2 linked regions of the Homo sapiens genome follow. The protein of the gene in region 1 purifies or fractionates together with the protein of each later gene. This does not show direct contact. Each region holds a gene or a part of one and is shown on either strand. Other genes may lie near its edges.

Region 1 (12,621 bases):
AGTCCGTTAAATCTCTTTTTCTTTATAAATTACCCAGTCTCAGATATGTCTTTATCAGCAGCATGAAAATGGACTAATACAGATACATAATGACAAAATGGACTAAGTGCTCTGAAGAAAACAGGGATTTTATGACAGTCAGTAACTGAGATAATACACTAGGTGGGGTATCCAGGAAGGCTGGAGGGCAGAGGAGGGGAAGGCCTGCTGAGCAGAGGGAACAGTGACTACAAAGGTCCTGGTGACTGCAATGCAGAGAGTAGGAGGGAGAGTGGGTGAGATGAGGCTGGAGTGAAGGCTGAGGACAGGCTATGCACAGGGCCTTGAAGCTCTTGGTTCAAAGTTTTTGTAATTATTATTCTTCAAGATATTGTTGCACTGCCTTCTGGTCTCCACTGTTTCTGATGAGGTCAGTGGTAATTCTAATTGTTGTTCTCCTATATACGGTGTTTCAGTCTGGCTGCATTCAAGATTTTCTCTTCATCATAGTTTGACTATGATATGCCTGGATGTATTCTTTGTATTAGTTTTTCTTTCTTTCTTTTTTTAAATTGGAGACAGAGTCTCACTCTGTCATCCAGGCTGGAGTGTGGTGGCACAATCTTGGCTCACTGCAACCTCCGCCTCCTGGGTTCAAGAGATTCTCCTGCTCAGCCTCCTGAGTAGCTGGGAATACAGGCGTGCGCCACCATGCCCAGCTAATTTTTGTATTTTTAGTAAAGATGGGATTTCACCATGTTGGCCAGGCTGGTCTTGAACTTCTGACCTCAGGTGATTTGCCTGCCTCAGCCTCCCAAAGTACTGGGATTACAGGTGTGAGCCACCAGGCCCAGCCTGTATTAGTTTTTCTTGATGTTCTATGACCTTGAATCTGTAATTGTATGTCTTTCACCATATTTGGAACTCTAATTATGTTTATGTTTTATTTTTCCACAAATCTCTGACACTTTATTTTATTTATGTATTTTTTTTTTTTTTTTTGAGACAGGGTCTTGCTCTGTTACCCAGGCTGGAGTACAGTGGTGCAATCATGGCTCACTGCAGCCTCGACCTCCCAGGCTCAAGTCATCCTCACACCTCAGCCTCCTGAGTAGCTGGGACTACAGGTACATGCTACCATGCCTGGCTAATTTTAACATTTTCTTTTTTTGGTAGAGACAGGATCTCTCTATGTTGCCCAGGCTGGTCTCAAGTTCCTGGGCTCAAACCATCCTCCTACCTGAGCCTCCCAAAGTGCTAGGATTATAGGCATGAGCCATTGTACCTGGCCACACTTTATTTTTAAAATTCATTTTTTTCTGTTCTTAGATTGGATAATTTATATTGATGTATTTTTGCATTTACTAACTCTTTTCTCAGCCATGTCCATTCTGCTGTTAAGCCTAGCCATTGAGTTTGTTATTTTAGACACTGTATTTTTCAGTTCTGGAATTACCATTTGGCTTTTAAAAAATAGTTTCTATTACTCTGCAGAAATGTACTGTCTTTTCAATCTTTTTCTTCTTTTTCTTTTTCTTTTGAGATGGAGTCTCATTCTCAAATGAGACTCCAGCACTGGCTGGAGTGCAGTGGTACAATCTCGGCTCACTGCAATCTCCACCTCCCAGATTCAAGTGATTCTCCTGCCTCAGCCTCCTGTGTAGCTGGGATTAAAAGCACCTGCCACAACACCCGGCTAATTTTTGTATTTTTAGTAGACAGGGTTTCATCATGTTGACCAGGCTGGTCTTGAACTCCTGACCTCAAGTGATCCACCTGCCTCAGCCTCCCAAAGTGCTGGGATTACAGCAATCTTTATTATCATATTTTTAATTATATTATTGAGCACAGTTATACTAGCTGCTTTAAAATCCTTGAAGCTTAATTCCAGCATCAGGGTTGTCTAGGGATGAATCTCCATTGATCATCTTTTCTCTTAAGAATAAATCATGTTTCCCTCTGTATTTCAAGTAATTTTGGATAATATCCTAGCCATTGTGAGTGATCCATTGTAGAAACTGTGTTTCTCTGAAAAGTGTTGGTTTTGTTTTTGGTTTTGTTTTTTAAAGCAAGCAGTTAACCTGACCAAACCAAAACTATAATCTGTCTACCTAGAGATGGGCACAACTATTTTCAGTTCTTTTGGCCTCAACCAGGAGGTTTGGAGTCTGTCCTATGTATACATGATTCAAGATTTGCCAGATATCTGGGAAAAGATTATAGATAGATTTTAGGGCTCTGTCTCTCTGGCTCTTTCCTTTCTGGAACTTTCCCTTTTGTATTTCATTCAGTAGCTGTGCTTTTCCCAAACCCTGTCTTTGGGCTCTTCAAACCAGCAAGCCTGTGGGTTTTCCATCAGAACTATAGCTGGGAGCAGACTGGCATTTTCTTTCAGGCTTCAAGTCATTTATAAAACAAACACAGAAAAAGCCAACACCACTTTGTTCTTTCATGTGTTAACTTTCAAGTGTTATAAGCCTACTTTTGTTCACTTTTCACCTGCCTTAAGTCTCTTTTATTTAGTGTTTTGCCCAGAGTTTATAATTATTATCTGTGGGAGATTTTTTAGTAGGAAGCACTTGAACATCTTAGAAAAATCCTTAAAGCCCTTGGTGAAGAAAAGAAAGGGAAAAATGAACAAAACATATGACATGATCAATCAGATTAGCATCTTCAAAGATTACTTTAGAAGCAGTGTGGAGAGGAGACCAGAACGAATGGAGATGAGTTTGGAAATCACTGCTGAAGTCTGCATGAAACATGATGATAGCTTGGAGTAGATGGTCGCAATGGGGGTGCAGCAAAGTGCTTGGATTTCAGAGACTCCTTTAGGGGGTAACACTGATAGGACTTGCTCCATGCATAGAGTATGTGAAGTGAGAAGTAAGGTGGAGAGAGAAATATCAAGGATGACTCCTAGACTTTTGACTTGCTCAACTAGATGAGTTGGGTGCCACTCCAGAGATAGTAAACCCTGGAAAAGATTCACAAATAAAAAACCGTGTGTGTGAGATGTTCCAAAATAATACATGGACGTGTGAGATAGAGGATTACTCAGATAGCTTCAAGACTTTAGACTTAAGGGACTGGAAAAATAATGGGGCCACTGACAGAAGTAAGGATAGTGAGAATATTTCATCTTTCTTTAAATATTGAGAAGACATTTTGGAATCCAGCAGTGCCTAGGGGTCATAGAAATGCCTTGGGGGCCATGACTGGGATTGCAGTAATGTGGCTAAAGAGATAATGCTGGCCTATAAAAAACTCTGAGAAAATCCCAGAGAAATCAGTTTTATATTACTACACAGATTCAGTTACACCTTGGCTAAATAATGTCCCCTGCTTATGTGGTGCCTCAGGTCACCATAAAGTGTTTAACACAGGCGTTATTCATGTTGCCCAAACCAACTTTATCATACAGGTTTTCTTAATATTAGTAACATTATCAGTTATTAATATTATACTACTAATAGTAATGTAACTATTAAGGTATAGAGTAATTGATTGTCAATTGGATCTTTCCATGGTTTCCAAAGATGTCAGGTCATAGAAATGATGACAATTGCAGGTGGGCCATTGTTTCTCCATCACAAGACAGAGGCACTAAGCAAGGTAACTAAAAGTCACTTCAGTGGTCTCATAATGTATTCAGTTGCCTTGGAAACAGGCATCATTATTATTAGCAACCTCAGTGGTTTATGTATTATTCTTTTTTCCTATGTGTGGATTAATTTTGTATTCATGTTTCCATTGTTAATATAACCAATCTCAAATCCTGTTAAAAAAAAAAAAGGCTTAAACGAATCATTGATTTCTCACAATTGTGGAGGCAGGGAAGTTCCAAATCGAGGTGCTTGCCCATTGTAGGTCCTAGTGAGGGCTCTCTTCCTGGCCTGTGGATGGCTGTCTTCCTGCTGTGGCCTCACATGGCAGAGAGAAGCTCTCCAGTGTCTCTTCTTATAAGGACATTAATTGTATGGGACCAGGATTCCACTCTTATGACCTCATTAGCCTTAATTCTTCACTCCAAATAGAGTCACACCAGGGGTTAGGACTTCAGTGTATAAATTTCGGTGGGTGGTGTGGGGGATATAATTCAGTCCTTAATAAATGTTTTTGCCATTTTTACTGTCATTCTGTCACAAGAACACAGTGGAGTTTTCCAGAGACTACATAAGGGTGTGGTAGCAGCAGGGTGAATGCAGAAGCAGGTATGAGTAGTCAGCAATCCTCCACTAGCCAGACCTTAGAGAGACTCGCCAGGATGTAACCTTTATCACCACTCCTCTCGCTACACTTTTGTTCTTGTGGAAAATAGTTATTTCTTAATTAAAAATGTTATGCTAACAATGTAGTCCATTTCTTTTTTAAAAATAATTAAAAATTTTAAATTTCCATTACGGTAAATGTGATATAAATAGCCTACATAAACAAAAGCTGCCTGGGTGCGGTGGCTCATGCCTGTAATCCCAACACTTTGGGAGGCTGGGGCCTCCCAACACTTCAGGATCACTTGAGTCCAGGCGTTTGAGACCAGCCTGGGCAACATAGTGAGACCCCATCTCTACAAAAGCAAAACAAAACAAAACTCCCAAAGTCAGCTGGGCCTGGTGGCGTGCGTCTGTGGTCCTAGTTACTCTGGAGGCTGAGGTGGGAGGATCGCTTTAGCTCAGGAGGTCGAGGCTGCAGCGACCTCTGATGGCGCCACCGCTCTCCAGCCCGGGAGAGAGCTCAACAACAACAACAACAAACAAACAAACAAAAAACCCCGCAGAAGCTCTCTGGGCTCCTCACTTGTTTAATGGAATGAAGGAGTCCCGAGAGCCACACATTTGGGAACCACCGGTCTCGGCCATGCCCAGCGCGGGCGCACTGTTGCAACACCCCTATCCCTGGCTGCGCAGGGTTCAGCTCTCCGCAAGTACCTTCCTCGCCTTCCTACCCCCCCCAGCCCCCAGCCGCCGCCGCTCCCGCAGCCCCGGTCCCGCGCCTCCCCGCAGCCCCGGCGCCCGCCTACCCGCCAGGCAGGCGGTGGTGTCGATCCACTTGAGCAGCTGCCCCGCGCTCAGCTCGCCGCGCGCAGTGGCGTGCGCCGGCTGGATGGCTTGGCTCATGACCACCTCGCCGGGCGCCGGCCGCTCCATGGCCAGGGCGAGAGCGCTACGCCTGCGGCCCCCGACACCCCACCATGCCCGCTCCGCCCGCCCCGCCCTCCCCGCCCAGCTCCAGAGGGCACTGGCGCCGCCCGCCCGGGCCGCGAACCCCTGGCCGCCAGGTGGTGGGAGCTGCGAGTGAGGGGGCCCGCACTGTCATCCCAGGACTATCGCGAGTGGGGGAAAACCAGCGCTCTCGGGTCTCAGGAGAAGTCTGGGAAGTGCGCGGGGAGGGGGCTCCCGGGTAGACAGGTCTGGAAGGCGGCTCCCCGAGAGCCGGAGCGCGAGGAACAGCTTTTGAGATAAAAAAGCTGTTACACTTTCTAGAGCTGCTATCAGTGACTGTACAAAGCAGTCCTCATTAGGGAAACAGTGTCTCCAGAAAACCTCCAGCATCTAATGGATTGGTGGATGTCTGACTGTCAGGGGAGGCTGCTCCAGGGAGCACATTTACGATGGAGAACTGGAAACCCGGAGAAGTGGAGCAAGCAGCTGAGGTGATAGGAGCCGATAAGCGACCCGATCACCTGGCTGGAACCCAGGGCTCCTGACTGTCCGGAATAGCACGAAGAAGCCTAGCCGACTCTCACGAATTGGTGGTGCCTTTTCATCCTTATATTTTTGGCTTGCCAAGCCTCAGCATGGCGACATCAGAATGGAGATTCTGGTATTTTTCTTTCCTTTTTAAAAGATTTTTTTTAAAATGAAAGTGAAGAAATAAGGAAATGTTGACTTGATAGCTTTTAGGAGCCTCTGTGTATAGGTTTCAGGACAATCCAATCATAAATAGGAATTGCATGTTTTCACTGAGGCAAGCATGAAGTCTGACTTATATAAAAGGCATTAAAATAACTTTTAAAAGCAAACAAAAACTTGTGCATCCAAGATGGTCCCATTATGTAGCTATACACTTATTTCAATGATAACGTTATTACATCGCTTTTGGCACTCCTCCTTGGAAAATGCCTTTTTAATGACTTCTGTATTGAGAAATCATAATTTAGGAATTGATAGATTATCATATATTCACTCCATCTACCAATAACTCTGTGAGAGTCATTTATTGACCTTGGACTTGGCCATGTGGCTTGCTTAAGAATGGAATGTGGAGAGATAGCAGTGTACCACCAGTCTTGCCTTTAGAAGCACCGTGTTTCTGTTCTCAGGAACATCTGACCTCTGCCATGAGGTCAAGTAGCTGCCTATTAGCATCTGGGTACCAGACTGAATTCACGTATTGCAGAGGCATCTCAGCCAGCCGGAGGACTCACAGCCTGAAGCAGAGCAACCCAGCAGACATGAAGACTCTTGAGTGAGACATAACTACTTATTGTTGTGTGCCACTGTGATTTTGGGGGTTGTCTGTTATGCAGCAATAGCTGACAGTTACATGAGTGAACTGTATTAATATTTGGGAAGTTTATTAAATTACTGGAAATAAAGTTTGCATTTAGGCTGGGTTGTATTATTTTGGGTAAAAAGTGGTGACTAAAGTGGTGATATTGAATTATGTGTATGGTTGTATACTTGGTTTCTTATAAACTAAAGAAACTTAGGCCAGGCGCAGTGGCTCATGCCTATAATCCCAGCACTTTGGGAGGCTGAGGTTAGGTAAATTGCTTGAGCTCAGGAGTTCAAGACCAGCCTGAGCAACATGGTGAAACCCTCTCTCTACCAAAAATACAAGAATTAGTTGGGCGTGGTGGTGTGTCCCTGTGGTCCCAGCTACTCAGGAGGCTGAGGCAGGAGGATCACTTGAGCCAAAAAGGCAGAGGTTGCAGTGAGCTTGAGTCTCAAAAAAAAAAAAAAAAAAAAAGAAAAAGAAGAAGAAATTTCAAAAATGTTTACGCATAAGTGTAAGAGGATGGGTTTCCAAAATGATTTTCTTGAAGGGGACAGCATGTGTATATTTGTGTGTTTGTCTAGAGATGTTGCTTTAAAAGCAGACATGGTACACAAATTCACTGCTGTGTTTTCTTATCTTTATTATCTCCTGTTTAGATGTCTTCAGATTATGGTTTCATATCTTTTGTTGGTTTCATACTAATTTTCATTTTACTATTCTTGTGTTTTTCTGAATGGTCCCTTTCTTCCTTTTACAATGAAAATGTCATCTGCATGCATGAACATTTGTTACCTCCATTTCTCTCTGGTGTCAAAGATTTTTACTATTATGCTTGAATAAAAGGTCGAGTTTCATTTGTGTTTAGAGACATTTTTGAAGATAAGCAGAATGTGAAGCCAGCTTGATTTTAAAAGTTTGTACACAGGAGCAGGAAAGCTGATCCAAAAAAGTGTGGGAAGTTCCACAATCACTAGAATAACGAGAAAATCTTTAAAATGCTGGAGTGGGAAGGGGAACTGGACAGTCTAAACTCTTATTCTAGAGATGAGGAAATGAAGTGATTTCCTTGGGTCACATTGTAAGGTAGTGGCTGGGTTTTGTGAAAACTAAGAACAAGGAACCTGGAATATAAGTAGAGAGGTAGAAAAAAAAATGCTTTCTCCAGAAACAGAGCCTCTGACAAGAATTTGAGAGCAGACAGTTTATTTGGGAGGAAATTGCAGAAAGCACTGGTAGGGGCATCAAAGTGTAGTCCCCAGGTAAGCAGCCTCAGCCTCACCTAGGATCCTCTTAGAAATGCAGAATCTCAGGCCGGGAGTGTTGGCTCATGCTTATAATCCCAGCACTTTGGGATGCTGAGGCAGGAGGATCACTTCATCCTAGGAGTTTGAGACCAGCCTGAGTAACATAGAGAGACCTTGTCTCTATAAAAAAAAAAAAAAAATTTAAAAATTAGCCAGGAAAGGTAGCATATGCCTGTGGTCCCAGCTACTTTGGGAGGCTGAGGTGGGAGGATTGCTTGAGCCCAGGAGGTCGAGGCTGCAGTGAGCCATGATTGGGCCACTGCACTTCAGTCTGAGTGACACAGTGAGACCCTGTCTCGAAAAGAAAAGAAAAGAAAAAATTATAAATGCAGAATTTCAGGCTCCAACTCAGACCTACTGAATTAGAGTCTAAATTTTATTAAGATTCCTAGGTGATTCAGGGGCACATTACAGTTTGTGAAGAACAGCCCCAGCCATCCCTCCCACTGGCATGAACCCTGGGGTTTTTATCCTCTGACTGGCATCCTTCATTGACTAAGGGCTGGTCCCAGGAGATGAACTCCCCAGGACTTCTGCAGATTTCAGAGCAAGAGCAAGCTTTCAGCTGGAGCTTTATCTCAGTAGGACAGGAAGACGCTGTCAGCTTGGACTAGGACTCAGAATGGTGAGTGCCGTGGCCATGTGGGCAAGGCAGAGAGCCAAAATCCTTACTGTCCTGAACAGCAGAGGCAGCCGGGAGCCTTTCCATTGTGGGAGATATGTCCCAGACAGAGGGTTTGCTAGTTCAAGTACTTCATACAGAGATGAACTTGATTAGCCATCAAACTCTCTCTCTACATTTGGTATGTTTTAAAAGGTGTCAGGTCAGTGTTTCCAAATTCAAATACAAATTTATAAGGATGTGGTTCAAAGTTTAAACTCAGAGCCCCTAAGCAAAAATTCCAGGATGGGTTTTCTCAGCTTTTGGCCGCCAACTTCTTGACTGGAGGGTCTCCTGTCCTTCTCTGCCCCTGAACCCTGCTCTAGGGATGGCAGTGACTTTGGGGAATGGGTTTTCTGCTTGGACTGTCCCTCTTAGCACCTGGAGCCTCAAGATAACCTTGCTCCTGTTTGTCCCTGCACTTCCGGTGGCCCCTTCTTTCTGTCAAGCATTAGGTGTAGAACCTAACAGCCACCACATTTGTGTGGAGTACAGAGCTTTATTTTGTTTGAACAAAAGCCATGTGTATAGAATCTAATTTTTCTGCTTCCCCAGATTTGTTTGGCCCCACTTTCATCCCAGGCCATTGATTACTGCTCAGTGGAGTCCCTTTGCGGTCACCACCACTGCCTGTGAATATGTTGGAGCACATTGTTTTCAAATACTGCATCCCACTTGCTCATGGTATACAATTCTTTCTATATATTGCAGATTTCCATTTACTAATATTTTAATAAGAATTTCTATGTCTGTATTTTTGGGACATGTTGGTCTGCAGTTTTCTTTCTTTAAAACTGTCTTTGTCTGGTTTTGGTGTCAGGGTTCATAAAATGAATCGGGAAATGTTCCCCCACCATGTATTCTGAAAAAGACTGTATATATTTGGTGTTCTTTACACTTTTGGTAGAATTCTCCAGTGAAACTATCTGGGCCCTGAAGATTTTTTTTGGAAGTTTAAAATTTTTTTTTTTTTTTTTTTTTTTTGAGACGGAGTCTCACAGTGGCGCACAGGCTGGGGTGCAATGGCACGATCTCTGTTCCCTGCAACCTCTGCCTCCCAGGTTCAAGCAATTCTCCTGCCTCAGCCTCCTGAGTAGTTGGGATTACAGGTGTCCGCCACCACACCCAGCTAATTTTTTGTATTTTTAGTAGACGGGGTTTCACTATGTTGCCGGGTGGGTCTCGAATGCCTGACCTCATGATCCTCCCGCCTCAGCCTCCCAAAGTGCTGGGATTACAGGTGTGAGCCACCACACCCGGCCATTAATTCGATTTTTGAAACAGTTACAGGGGTACTCAAATTATTTCGTATGGGGTGAGCTGTGGTAGCTTGTTTTTAAAAGAATTACTCCTTTTTATCTCAGAAAAGGTGATTTGCCAAAGACTGAGATTGAGCTAGAGCCTGATCTGGTGCTTTTTCTTCCATCTGGCAGAGCCCTCCCCTCTCTGGCTGGCTCTTAAAGCTGCCCCTTCCTGCCTCCCTGGCTTTCCCCAGATCTCTCCTGCCCACACCATTTCCTGCTTTCTAAGCCAGCTTTCAGCTACTTCCCCTTAGGGGAGTGGTTCTCAAGATTTTCCAGCTCAACCCATACATACTGAATCCGAAATTCCAGGGGTGGGGCCAGTAACTTTTTTTTTTTTGACATGGAGTCTCGCTCTGTTGGCCAGGCTGAAGTGCAATGGCATAGTCTCGGCTCACTGCAACCTCCGCCACCTGGGTTCAAGCGATTCTCCTGCCTCAGCCTCCTGAGTAGCTGGGATTACAGGCACATGCCACCATGCCATTCTAATTTTTGTATTTTTAGTAGAGACGGGGTTTCATCATGTTGGTCAGGCTGGTCTCGAACTCCTGACATTGTGATCCACCCGCCTCGGCCTCCCAAAGTGCTGGGATTACAGGCGTGAGCCACCACACCCAGCCAATAACCTGTTTTTAACAATTTTTCCATGTGCTTCTGCTGCACAGTATGTTAAAAACTACTGCCGTATGGTGTCTTTCTTTAAAAGAGTAAAGCTTACAGTGCAGTCCTTCCCAAGAACATCTTCAGTTTAACAGGGGGCCTTTTCAGACCTGTAAAGGAATTTGTGATGCGGGGAAAAGGGTCACAGTCTTGGGTCTGGAGAGATGTGTTTGTGTCTGAGTTAGACCCTATCCTTGCTAGTGTTGAACTCGAATGTATCACTCAATTTACACATTAGTTTGTTTTTTTTTTTTTTTAACAAAATAGGGATGCTTTCCCTATTTCATAAAGTTGTGATTAGATCATAGAAAGTATTATCAAATGGAATCATGATAACTGCTATTTATGGAGGGTCAAGTCTCACAACAACCTTGCAAGTAATATTCTCTTTAAAGAGCTGGGAAATCAAGCCCAGATAATTCATAAGCACTTACAACATGCCACACATCCCTATGAAGTATACAAACTACTACAATTCCCATTTTATAGATGAGGAAACTGATGGAACTTGCCCAAGACCACATAACTAGGAAGTAGTAGAGTCAGGATTCAAATCTAGAAAGTCTGGCTCTTGTTCAGCTGGGCTAGGAAGTTGATGCATGTGGTGCAGAGGACACATGGGAAGTGGGAGAGATGGGAGTGGTGCCCAGTTCTAGCTCCAAAGGCCATGCTGGTGCCTCTATTTCAAGTCACCTTCATTCATTCAATCAGCACATACTTATTGAGTGCCTACTTTGTCGCAAGGACTGTTCTGGTCATTGGATAAATGCTGGTGAGTAAAATAGATTGGTCCTTAGAACTTTATAGAATTCATAGTTTAAAGATAACATGGAAATGGCTACAAAATAATGTTGACTATTCTAATGAGGATGAAATGGAATGATAAGCACATAGGGAAACTGGCTGATGGCTGTGTGCAGCTCCTGAAATTATAACCTGCTGTTGACCGTCTACTAGACTTAAGATCAGTGCTGAGTTGGGTCTGTTTTTTAAAACAATCACCAACTTACAGAAAATTTGGAAGTCCTGTACAAAGAACATATTTTTCTCTGATCCATTTGAAAGTAAGTTGCCAACCTGATGCTTAGCCCCAAGTACTTTAGTGTGAATTTCCTATAAACAGGACTTTCTCCTACTGAACCATAACACACCATCAAAATGAGGAAGTTGACATGAATCCTCAGAGCCTGCTATGGTTTGAATGTATGTGTCCCTCCAAAATTCATCTGTTGAAACCTAAGACCCAATGTGACAGTTTTAAGATGTGGGACCTTTTGGGAAGTGATAAGTCCCGATGGCTCTGCCCACATGAATGTATTAGTGAGTGCCCTTGTAACAGGGCTGGAGAGTACTATCTACGTAGGCCCTCTTTGCCTTTTTTTTTTTTTTTTCCTTTCTCTCGAGGTCACCATGTGAGGACTCAGTGTTGTGGAGCCACTAGAAGCTGAAAGGGGCAGGGAAGGAAATCTCCCCTAGAGCTTTTGGGGATTACGGCCCTGCCAACACCTTGAGTTCTGACATCTGGGCTCTGGAACTGTGGGAGAATCAATTTGTCTTCAGCCCCGCAGTTTGTGGCAATTTGTTACAGCAGCTGTAGGAAATGAACACACCAGCCACCTAGAAAACCACCAGTTCAGATGGGTGGGTCAGATTCCAACTCCACCTGAAGGGATAATTCTAGTTTTCTCCCTCCTCATATTTTCAACTCCGTTTTCTGACAAGAAACCTGGCTTCTGTGATGCTTAATAGATTGACTTCTTTGGTCAGTCCCCCATATGACAGCGACCTCCCTGCTCCTCTGCCACCCTTGGCCCTGAGGGGGCTCCCTCCCGACCTCCCCACTGGACTCAGGGCAGTGTCCTGCTCTGGGCACACACCCATATCCTCTGTCTCACCTAATGGCTAGACACACATTACTCGGAGGGGAAGGGAAGGAGAAGGGTAGAGGAAGACCAGCCCTGGTTTATGCCCACCCTTGCTGGAGCATCTCGACTCTCGGTGCACTGCCCTGCTCCCCTGGGAGGTGCTGGGTGCCCACCGTGCCAGGCTGGAATGCGGGTGCCCCTGCAGGAGGCTGAGCCTGTATGTGATCACACAGTGCAGGGGTCAGGCTTCGATGTAAGAGTGGCAGGAGTGCGTGTCACCGTCTTACCCTCCCCTCCTCAGAGCGTCCCGACGCACCTGCAAAACCCAGTGTATCTTTCTACACATGTGGTGT
Region 2 (12,190 bases), on another chromosome or scaffold:
TAAGATCTGGAATAAGCAAAAGGGTCTCTCTCTCATACACACTCACACTCACACACAAAACCCTGTTTAGTAACTAGGTTTTCAAGAAGCAATATAAATATCTGATTCTGTATCATGTTAGGTTGGGTGACTCTGGTCAGATTAGTGTTCTTTAGGACTTAAAGAGAGTCCAATTCTATAAAGTCATAAACCTCAAATGACATTTAACAGGTAAAAATACAGGTATTGGATACAGTGGCACCAGCCTGTAATCCCAGCTACTTGGGAGGCTGAAACAGGGGGATCACTTAAGCCCAGGAGTTCAAGACCAACCTGGGCAACATAGCAAAACCTAGTCTCAAAAAAAAAAAAAAAAAAAAAAGACAGGTATTAGCTTCAGGATTCACTGGACTGTTCTATTAGTGACTATTAAAACTCCTAGACCTAAGCATGCATCAGATAAAAACTTAACATGACAATTTTTATAAATAAGTTAATGAGGGAGCTGTCCAACCCCATAACACTAGTTTTCTTAACCCATATTATAAAATGAATATTCTACTACCAGCCTGACTGGTTCTGGGGAATGGAGGGCTAACACGAAAGATTAGCACAAGGCATTTATAATTAAGGTAATCATTAATAAGACTGCAGAGGTAGGCAATGGCCAGACTGCAAAGAGCCAAAGCTCTGTCAATCAGGTAGCACTCCAGGCTTTGAACAGAGAACATAATAGCAAGTGGCTTTTTTTTCTGAGAGAGAGAATATCGTTCTGTAGCCCAGGCTGGAGTGCCATGGCATGATCTCGGCTCACTGTAACCTCCATCTCTTGGGTTCCAGTAATTCTCGTGCCTCAGCCTCCTGAGCAGCTGAGCTTACAGGCACACACCACCACACTTGGCTAATTTTTGTATTTTTAGTAGAGATGGGGTTTCACCATGTTTACCAGTCTGGTCTCGAACTCCTGGCCTCAAGTAATTTGCCCATCTCAGCCTTCCAAAGTGCTGGGATTACAGGTGCGAGCTACTGCACCTGGCTACCAAATGTTTTTAATCTAATACTTAGAAAGAAATACTTAGGAGAGCTACTTTATGAATATATCATGGATCTATCTACTCACCTGGATATTCTGACCATATTAGCTGTCCTACTTGCAAAATTATTTTATTCTTAGCTAGGATAAACTTTGCTACCCATGAAGAACTGTTCCATTTTATATTTTCTGAGATAATTAACGTGTTGTTCTTTTCTCCTTGCCTATAAGCAAGCTCTGAAACAAATTTTACACTAGTCACAGCAACTATATTAACTATACTCTCCCTTTGTTTGCCCTGATTTTCTGTTTTTATTTCTGGTTTATTAACTAAATAGTATATATCCCTAGTTTAAGTTATTTATGTACAGATACATTCAATCAAAAAGCAATCAAATCTAAGTTTCCTATAAAAATTAGTGCATATACATTATTGGCCTTTTGGTGTGCTTGACTATCAGAGCAAAAAGTATTAGAATTACTTTTCCCTCAAGGGGAAATCTTAAAGACTTCTTAAAGAAAAATTTAAGGAAATTCAGGCTATTTGAATCCAATGAAATTTTGTTTTTATTATATTATTTATAACTGTATATGCTGATAGTGTCCTAGCACTGACATAAAAATCCCATTAGCTAAGTTTAATTTTACCTTTATTTTGTGGAAGACAGTCATTCATAATTTGCTGATGACAAAACTCCAAGACACAAAATAGGTTACAGAAATGTTTAATGTTGCCTCGCCACTTTATGGACTCGCTTAGTTTACCCTGTCGTTTACAACCATCACACTTGGCCATCTGAAAAAGAAATGTTAGACAAGATAGGCTTAAAACTATAAAATAATGAAAAGATAACATTAATCATAAAAAGAGGGACTACGAAAACAGGATATATGAGTCAGTTGAGACTACAAAATGTAAGGTTCTTACCTTAAAATACTGATTTTATTTAATTATTTGTTTTATATAGATGCCCTAAATCAAGATAATATAAAAACTGTGGCCAGGCACGGTAATTGTGGGATCACGCCTGTAATCCCAGCATTTTAGGAGGCCGAGGTGGGCGGATCATGAGGTCAGGAGTTCAAGACCAGCCTGACCAACATGGTGAAACCCCGTATCTACTAAAGTACAAAAATTAGCCAGGTGTGGTGGCGCACGCCTGTAATCCCAGCTACTTAGAAGGCTGAGGTAAGATAATCGCTTGAATCCAGGAGGCAGAGGTTGCAGTGAGCCGAGATCGCGTCACTGCACTCCAGCCTGGGTGACAGAGTAAGACTCTGTCTCAATAGAAAAAAAAAAAAATGCTCTTCTGTTTTCAAAATTACCAATAAGGGAATCTATCTAAAGATAGGTTCATAACTGGGCATGGTGGTGCCCACCTCTCCTGGTTACTCGGGAGGCTGAGGCAGGAGAATCACTTGAACCCAGGAGGCAGAGGCTACAGGGAGCCAACATCGCCCACTGATCACGCCACTGCACACCAGCCTGAGCAATAGAACAAGATTCTGTCTGGCTGGGGGATGGGGGGTGGGCAGGTGGGATGGGGGAAGAAAAGATACACAATGAAAAAAGTAAGTAAAAAAAAAATAAAGATAGGTTCAACTTCTAAAAAATTAAGCAGCAGCTTACAGTAGTTGATATAATATGGGCTTTGGAGTCATAAAGATTTTGATTCATTCAGCAAATATTTAATTAGACATCCTTTGTCTTAAGCACTGTGATTGGCCCTAATTATATAATCATGAAAAATATATTACCCTCCCCCAACAATAAAATTCTATTTTTTTAGAGGTAGAAAAACAAACAGTGATTTACCAGAGTGTTATAGATGCTGTCTTGCTGTCACCTACCAGCTTCCTCAAGAGCATATTACTTAACTTCCCTGGACCTCTCTCCTTTTCCTTATTTATAAAATGGCAGTAATATACTTACCTCTTGGGACTATGGTAAGGATTAAATGAAATGACACTTACAGAGCACCAGACATGTATTAGTGGTTCAATTAACTGTAGCTACCATTGTTAGCCTTTCAAAAAGTTAATCTTTTTAAAAATGAGGTAGGAATGGTTGCCAGCTATTGTCCTTTGACCTATGAAGTGAGACAAGGTCTAACTTCAAATTCCTCAGAGTAACCTGAATGAGAGAGCCACTTCAGGCAACATTATGTGAAGTTCTAACCTGAAAGAAGTCAAATAAGGGCAAAGTGCCTCATAAGAAGGCAAAAATAAAAGGAACATATCCAACCAACAACAAAGTCTGCAGAAATCCTATACTTTTTATCCCAAAGATTTCCTGTTTATATTCAATTGAATTTTTCTATTATAGCCCATAACTTATTTTATCCAGTGCTAAACACCAAATTTTTCTTCACATAATTTGAATACATTTTAAATAAAAACAATTTGCACTGATTTCAGAAAGCCAAAAAAAGTATATTATCACATTTACCTGATAAAACAGAACTGTAAATTTGGACATACAATCTTCACAACAAAACTCTTCTAACTTGCCCTCCAATCGATTTTCTACCAAATTTGGGGATGTCTGTGAACAGTAGCTGCACATCTTACAGTAGTTTCCCCATCGTTCTCCAAAGTCACGGGCAGAGAGGAATTTGCAAACTGAGGATCAGAGGGATGAAAGGAAGAAAAATCAAATTTACATTAACTGAGGAGGTATAATAAGTTTCTGTGGTCTTAGATATGAAACTTTAAGCTAATTTCTAATACACAATTATTTGCCTCTAGATTACAGGACAGTCTCTATATTCACAAACCAAACTCATACCACCTTTTATTTTATTTTATTTTTTGAGACAGAGTCTCACTCGTTTTGCCCAGGCTGGAGTGCAGTGGCACAATCTCAGCTCACTGCAACCTCTGCCTCCCAGGTTCAAACGATTCTCCTGCCTCAGCCTCCTGAGTAGAGCAGCTGGGATTACAGGTACCTGCCACCACACCCAGCTAATTTTTGTATTTTTAGTAGAGATGGCATTTCGCCATGTTGGCCAGGCTGGTCTCAAACTCCTGACCTCAGGTGATCTGGCTCGCCTTGGCCTCCCAAAGTGCTGGGAATACAGGCGTGAGCCACTGCGCCCTGCCACCACCTTTTAAATATACTCTAAATATTAGGCCATTTATATTCAGAAACATTAGAGGTATAAAAGTTTTTTAAGCCAAGAAGCAGCAACTGTTTTAAGTTCCTCTTCGCAAATGAGTGCAAGAACAAAAAGATCTCTGATGTCATAGCTAAACTTATGAAGAGATTTTCTTTATTAATACCACTGATGTAATCATTTTTACAGTTTTTTATTGCAATTACTGCAACATTTAAAAAGACTGACTTTCAGCCAGGCACAGTCGCTCACGCCTATAATCCCAGCACTTTGGGAGGCCGAGGCAGGAGTACCACCTGAGCTCAGGAGTTCAAGACCAGCCTGGGAAACATGGTGAAACCCCCCGTCTCTACCAAAAATAAAAAAAATTAGCCAGGCATGGTGGCACGCTCCTGTAGCTTCAGCTACTTGGGAGGCTGAAGTGGGAGGATCCCTTAAACCGGGGAGGCAGAGACTGCAATAAGCCAAGATCATGCCACCACACTCCAGCCTGAGTGACAGGGCAAGACCTTGTCTCAAAAAAATAAACAAACAAAAATAATAAATAAAAAGATTGACTTTAAAGTGAATTAACTATAAACACAATTCAAAAAAACCTTTTTTTTTTTGGAGACAAGAGTTTCGCTCGTCGCCCAGGCTGCAGTGCAATGGCATGATCTCAGCTCACTGCAACCTCTGCCTCTGAGGTTCATGCAATTCTCCTGCCTCAGGCTCCCAAGTAGCTGGGATTACAGGCGTGCGGCACCATGCCCGGCTAATTTTGTATAGAGACGGTGTTTTTTAACAGAGATGGGGTTTCACCATGTTGGTCAGGCTGGTCTTGAACTCCCAACCTCAAGTGATCCACCCACCTCAGCCTCCCAAAATGCTGGGATTACAGGCGTGAGCCTCCATGCCCGGCCTCCAAAATACTTCTAATTACACCTTGTAAGACAAAAAGAATGTGAAAACTAATCATGGCTTAATTGCCCAAGTCGTCATGAATTATAACAACCCATGCTCTGTGAATAAAACAACTTTGTCTTTACCTTCACTACAGAATGGCTTATCAACCCCTGAGAATCGCACAGTCTCCTTTATAATTTTCTGCAGTTTACAGTAGTCACACATTGCCACAACTTTATTTTTCTTCTTGTATTCATCAGAGCAATTCTTGCCACAAAACAGAAACATTTTACCCTGCAGAGAAACAACAGTCCATTAAGAGCCAACTAAACAGTTGCTTTATCTTTAAGAACTCCTTTTCATGTCAAAGCAAATTGAGTGATCAAAATTGAAAACACAAAAGTGTTTCTACTGGATGAGTTTATATACAATCCCTTTCATGATCTCTCTTTACCTTGTAAAAAAGAAGTTCTGGTTTTGTGGCAAATAGATGGTTACAGTGCTGACACTTGAGTTTAACAACTGTATGGGTTAAAGCAACTTGCTGGGATTGTTCAGCAAGAGGTTGGAGGCTGGCTGCAGCAGAGCCACGGATGGAGCTGGGGGAAACGGCAGAGGTGTTACCTCCTCCTATTGACACTGCTGACCTGGAGGAGGGCGGGCTTACAACCACTTGGCCCTGAGACAGGGGCACCGCCGAAGAGTTTGTTCCTTTTGGCTTGCTAAATACATTCTGAATGAAAACAAATAAGGTAAAGATTTTATCAACTGAGAAATAAGATAACTTTGTACTTTTCATTTCCTCATTTTAATAAATCAAGTCTCCCACAAACATTTTTTAAAATTTTCTATCTCACAGAAAGAGTTTAAATGGTATATTTCCAGAATAAAAGGACTGAGAAATACAACATTAAAAGGTCAAGGACTGGAATTCAGGCTTTCCTGACAAAGACCTCCAGTATATGCCTCTAATAAATTAGAGCAGGCCTCTCCTTCCCCCTAAAACTTCCCCCTACCTGCACTCCCATCATCAACCAGCTTCTGATGGCTACTACGACACAATAGCTACCAGCAGTCTCTTTCTCCCTAATGCCAGGGATACTACATCAGGCATGTTCCTACCCTGGAGATTACTAAACTCTACTCTTTGTGTATGTATTGCAGAGAGGGAGGAGAAAATGGGACAAGTGGATGCTTACAATTCCATGCCAGGAGTCACTGTGTTTCTGACACAGGATGAGAGGAAGGGGTATGTGAATCCCATCAGGCTACTGTTCTTCACCATACCACCTACCCAAACCACAATCCTAGCTTCCATCTTTTTGAAGGGGAGAGACCCAAGGGAGAAAGTGGGAGGGAATGACAGTTTAGGCTAGGATCCTAAATAAAGAAGAAACTGCTGAGACCCAATATCTGGGTTCAGATATTTTGTAGAAATGACCTGGTTGGGCCCCTGGATGAAACAAATTTTTTTCTTTTTAATTCAAATTTAAACTTTCATAAGAACAGGCCTTCAGCAGTTAACACTGTGCCACAGATCGATGCCTAACAGAACCACATGCATAATGTGCTACCTTAGATCATACCTGGAAAGCAACCACACAACTGGAGCTGCAGAAGCTGTATATAGTTCCATTTGACATGGCTAGGTGATACTGAGGGATTGCTGAGGTTTTACAACTATGACATGAAACCTGGACACCTTGGTGACAAAAAATTAAAAACAATGATTAAGTTATACCAATGAACAAACAATACAAAAATGTATTGGGAGAATGAAAAAATTAAATAATCAATAATATACCAAAAAAATCAAGGAACTTTATAAAAATCTGAAATCTAACCACAACTAACCTCTATTAAGTCCCACTTACACAAAAACTAACTTGGAAATTTTAAGTGTTTTTTCTTTCCTCTCACATATGAAATTATAAAATACTGTATATATTGCAACCAAGAAAATCGGGGAAAAACTATTTTCACATAAAAGTCAGTTATTTAAAAGTCAGTCTTGGGTTTTTATTTAACTAAATAGATAAATTTAGCTTGTAACAAAATCAGAGAAAAGCAGTTACGTTTTTCTTCAATAGTTATTAAATCTATAAATTTATCAAATTTAAACATTACCTGAAGAAGTAACAGTCTTAACTCTGTAAGCAGATAAGCAATTAATAGAGCAGAAAAGCTCTGTTTTTCCTGAATCATTTGTAGTCTCAATCATTTCAGCTGAGGGCCTCAATGACTTCCCCAGGGCATATGGAGGAATTTGGGCAGAATTCTATTAAAATAAAATAACATTAGATACCTAGTACAAACATACATATTTACATATTGTTCAAAAAAGTAAAAAGAAAAGCTACCTACAACCACGGTCCTTGGTTGAAATATTTGAGCATGATGATGAAACCACACTATTGGGAGGTGGGAAAATAAGTTCTTCCAGACAACAATAAAATAGAAACTGAAGAAAATTAGTAACTATTCAGATAGAGATCTTAGCAAACAAAACACATGAATTCAAACACAAGTAATGAATTAAATAGTCATTACATACTTTTTAATCACCAATAACCAGAGAAGACCAGCTAACCCATGAACCAAAGGGTCATTCTTGGTATAGTCTTGTACATCAATCTAGAAGAGTCTACCACCTTTAAGGTTACTTAATTTGTGAGATTCTTTAGCAGGAGATAGAAATGATATTTAATGTATATTAATAGAGATCCTACACAACTACCTATTTTTCAAGCTGAGTTTCATAATAAAATCTGCTTATAAGTTTATTCATGTTTTAAGAAATAATAAAAATAGCTACCATTTACATAACCAATATTATAACTTACTGAATGCTTACCATGAGTCAGGCCCCAGGCTAAGAAATTTATATATAGTGTATCACAGAAACCTTTCAACAACAGAGTGAGGCGCTCTCAAAAATTACATTAACAAAAAGTTTAAATTAACAGATGAGCAGAAGAAGTAGGAAATTAAACTCATTTCATCAGGCTCCAAAGTTCAGGCTCCTAACCACTACACTATGCTGTCAGTGATACATTATAAGGTCTCTCAATATGAAAAGAAATTGTAGGAAAATATAAATTGTGAGGTTTCACTACATAATCTTCCTAGTAAAAAGACAGAGTACAATACTAGTAACAAAATTAGAAATGGAACTGATTTTGGGATCATATATAAAATAACATGGATTCTTTTCCTGTGAAAGTAGAACCAGACTGCCAAAAATGGCAAATCTTAAAAAAAGAGATTCTTTTCAGTGATGAATGTCCATATGTCCATTACCAACTGCTCAAAGGAAGCAACAAATCAAACTTGCTAACTGAAAAAAAGTTTAATTATCATTTACAAGATACATCTTTGTTTTTTTTTTTTGTTTGTTTGTTTGTTTTTGAGACAGTCTTGCTCTGTCACCCAGGCTGGACTGCAGTGGCACAATCTCAGCTCACTGCAACCTCCACCTCCCGGGTTCAAGCAATTCTCCTGCCTCAGCCTCCTGAGTAGCTGGGATTACAGGCGCCCGCCACCACGCCCAGCTAATTTTTGTATTTTCAGTACAGACAGGGTTTCACCATGTTGGTCAGGCTGGTCTCGAACCCCTGACCTCGTGATCCACCCGCCTTGACCTCCCAAAGTGCTGGGATTACAGGCGTGAGCCACCGCGCCGGCCTTACAAGATACTTCTTTAAGAAAAACTTTTTAAAACCACAAATTAGTAATAATTAAATTGACACAAGGTGATAATATTTAGTAACCGGCTTAATCCATTATTCATTACAATAAATAAAATTACTTGAAGTATTCTCATGAGACAGTGTTGACCAAATAATTACAATTCATTCCCAAACACATTTTGAAATGAAAAAGACAAGCTTTGTTTAGATTCACTGATTTTATCATCTTAACTCTTGCTTATGGTTTATTTATAATATGGTTTTCTTGCTATCAATACATCACAAAATATTTCATGCTCACAGAAAATCATGAAATTACATTTATGAGGCCGAGGTGTGGTTGCTCATGCCTGTAATCCCGGCACTTTGGGAGGCTGAGGCGAGTGGATGGCTTGAGCTCAGGAGTTCAACACCGGCCTGAGCAACATGGCAAAACCCTATCTCGATTTCAAAAAAAGAAAAGAAATCACATTTGTAAATTCTTAGCTATGAAGGGAGCCTTAAAAAAGGGACCTATTTTACCTATATCAACTTACCACCACAATCATCCCTCACACCATCAGAATCTATCCCATTTTCTGGAAGGGAAATCACATATCAGGATGGACTAATGGGAGGAGCTCACTCTCATTTTGTAGTTCATCCCTGTGCAGCCAAATCAGAAGGAGTGGGCCTAAGTACATGCAACAAATAGATATTCATACCTGCTTGTATGCCGTGACACTTGTTGAACTAAAAACCTTCTGGGATTGGCAAGGACCAGAGCTACTATAGCAATAGCTCCCACAGTTCTCACAACAGTTCATGGTGAGGTTGTTTGTAGAGTGAAATTTTGAAAAACAGGCATCACTACAAAGACCATGTACCACATTTTGATATTTAACTTCAAATCGAGTCTAGGAAATAAACACACACATACACACACAAAATAAGCAGAGCCAGTTAAAAAAAAATCTCTTTCAGCAGAATCCCAATAAAAGTAAAATGTAACTTACATCAGCATTCTTCTGACACATACTGCACTTAGTTGAAATGCTTTTGGTATATATGGTAACAACAGGTTTTTTCTTTAGCTCATAAGATGACAAGCATGATTGGCTGCAGAAATCTTTGCTAGGATAGGAATTCTCAAAGCGAGTTGTGATCACATCCTTAGGATTTAAAATGTCTCTAAAAATAAATAACAAAGGTAAAAATGAAATGTATTCTTCACAACTGTAACTTCCTCCTCTTTGTGAGGTGAAATAACACTTACTAAGGGCAGGTACTGTATGGTAGAAAAAGGATAAGGAATCTGCAAACCTGGGTTTGATGAGTTCTGCTATTTATCAGGTGAGTGACAATGAATGATGTAATTACTATCTCAATTTCTTCATGTATAAAATGGGGCTTATAATATCTAATTCATAAATTTGTCAAGAGTGAATTATATTTAAAATATAGCCAGCCAGGGCCAGGTGCGGTGGTTCATGCATGTAATCCCATCACTTTGGGAGGCCGAGGTGGGCGGATCATGAGGTCAGGAGTTCGAGACCAGCCTGGCCAACATGGTGAAACCTCGTCTCTACTAAAAATACAAAAACTAGATGGGCGTGGTGGTGGGCGCCTGTAATCCCAGCTACTCGGGAGGCTGAGGCAGGAGAATCACTTGAACCCGGGAGGTGGAGGTTGCAGTGAGCCGAGATTGTGCCACTGCACCCCAGCCTTGGCAACAGAGCTAGACTCCATCTCAAAAAAAAAAAAAAAAAAAAATATATATATATATATATGTGGCCAGCCAGATGCTGAAGACAAAAATAGGAAGGCTTCCAGCCCCAACCAAGTTTCATCTGCTATAGCCAATGGGACCAGTGTCCATCCCACAACTCCAGACCACAAGACACTGGTTCTCTCATTAGCCAGAGGCTGCCCAAAGTAGAACTGAAATGAGACAATAAATGAATTTTTTCTTTCTTTTTTTTTTTTTTTTTTGTGAGACGGAGTCTCGCTCTGCTGCCCAGGCTGGAGTGCAGTGTCACGATCTCGGCTCACTGCAATCTCCACCTCCTGGGTTCAAGCGATCCTCCTGTCTCAGCCTCCGGTTCGAGTAGCTGGGACACCAGCACGTGCCACCATGCCAGGCTAATTTTTGTATTTTTAGTACAGACGGGGTTTCGCCATATTGGCCACGCTGGTCTCAAATTCCTGACCTCGCGATCCGCCTGCGTCAGCCTCCCAAAGTGTTGGGATTACAGGCATAAGCCACCGTGTCCAGCCAAGACAATAAATGAATGTTTAAAAATTAAAAGTGCAAGATTTTGAGAAACAAATGAGCTAACAGAAGACAAAAAATAAGCATGATATATGACAAAAGGGCTGTTAAGGCTTTGTATCAGAGGACAGATGGAAACAAGAACGAGACAGGAAGAACAAAAATAATTGGGTGGTTCTGTGAGACTCCTAGAGCCAATTTGTAAGAGCTAATTATTGCAATAAGCACAAATAGCAATACCCTGGTAAAACAGAGGTTAAGTATTGCCATTCTTCTGACAAGTATAAAAACTAAAGGAAATAGTCACTAATTATAAACACTAGTGCAGGCCACAAAGTAAATAATAATGGCAATAATATATACTACAATAAGTGTGTTGAGTAATTACTATGTGCCAAGCATTATTCTCTTTACTCAAATTACCCAATTTAAATACCACAAAAATGATGGAGTGCAGTGGCTCACCCCCATAATCCTAGCACTTTGGAAGGCCAAGGCAGAAGGATTGCTTGAGCCCAGGGAGTTCAAGACTCCAGTGAGCCATGATCATGCCACTGCACTCCAGCCTGGGCAACAGAGCAAGACCCGATCTCTATAAAAAAAATTTTTTAATTAGCAGGGCATGCTGGCTCATGCCCATGGTCTCAGTTACTCAGGATGCTGAGGTGGGAGGATTGCTTGAGCCCGGGAGGTAGAGGCTGCAGTGAGCTGGGATCACGCCACTGCACTCCAGCCTGGGTGACAGAGTGAGACCGTGTCTCAAAAAAAAAAAAAAATCCCCAAACCACTATAAGGTTAAGTATTACTGTAACTGCCACTTTACAGATGAGGAAACTGAATGAGAGGTTAAATAGCTTGTCAAAGTCATATTGCTAGTAGGCAATAAAGCTGAAATACTAATCCAGGCAATCTGATTCTAGTCTATGGAATTAATTATTCCACTATCCTGCCTCCCATCCTGCACCTTTATTATACAGGTATATTCAATGGTAAACCATGAGAAAATAACAACAACAAAAATTATTTTAATTCTTTAAAACTCAACTTTAAAAATATGACAGCAAATCTTAGAAACCAAAAGAATATGCTTATACACAGATGAAGTATTAATTTTGAAAAGTGATTTTTCTACTGAAAACAGAGCAATAAAGAGTTTCACTTAATAAGGTGAATCTGCCAGTGGCATAATAAGTACAAAAATAGCAAGTAAAAATATGTAAATCAAAGAGAATGACTT

The links.
Region 2: the proteins of ACOT12 (region 1) and ZMYM6 purify together in Homo sapiens (affinity purification with mass spectrometry; 2 studies listed by BioGRID and IntAct, with this or other methods). This does not show direct contact.

The regions. Positions count from the first base shown.
Region 1 is NC_000005.10:81,388,992-81,401,612, forward strand, and holds the start of ACOT12 (acetyl-coenzyme A thioesterase), read right to left. Parts: upstream 5,144-12,621; 5' UTR 5,124-5,143; coding exon 4,997-5,123; intron 1-4,996. UniProt on the Homo sapiens protein: Catalyzes the hydrolysis of acyl-CoAs into free fatty acids and coenzyme A (CoASH), regulating their respective intracellular levels. Preferentially hydrolyzes acetyl-CoA.
Region 2 is NC_000001.11:35,005,291-35,017,480, forward strand, and holds part of ZMYM6 (zinc finger MYM-type protein 6), read right to left. Parts: intron 9,873-12,190; coding exon 9,698-9,872; intron 9,599-9,697; coding exon 9,407-9,598; intron 7,292-9,406; coding exon 7,141-7,291; intron 6,716-7,140; coding exon 6,600-6,715; intron 5,747-6,599; coding exon 5,468-5,746; intron 5,308-5,467; coding exon 5,157-5,307; intron 3,635-5,156; coding exon 3,462-3,634; intron 1,809-3,461; coding exon 1,661-1,808; intron 1-1,660. UniProt on the Homo sapiens protein: Plays a role in the regulation of cell morphology and cytoskeletal organization.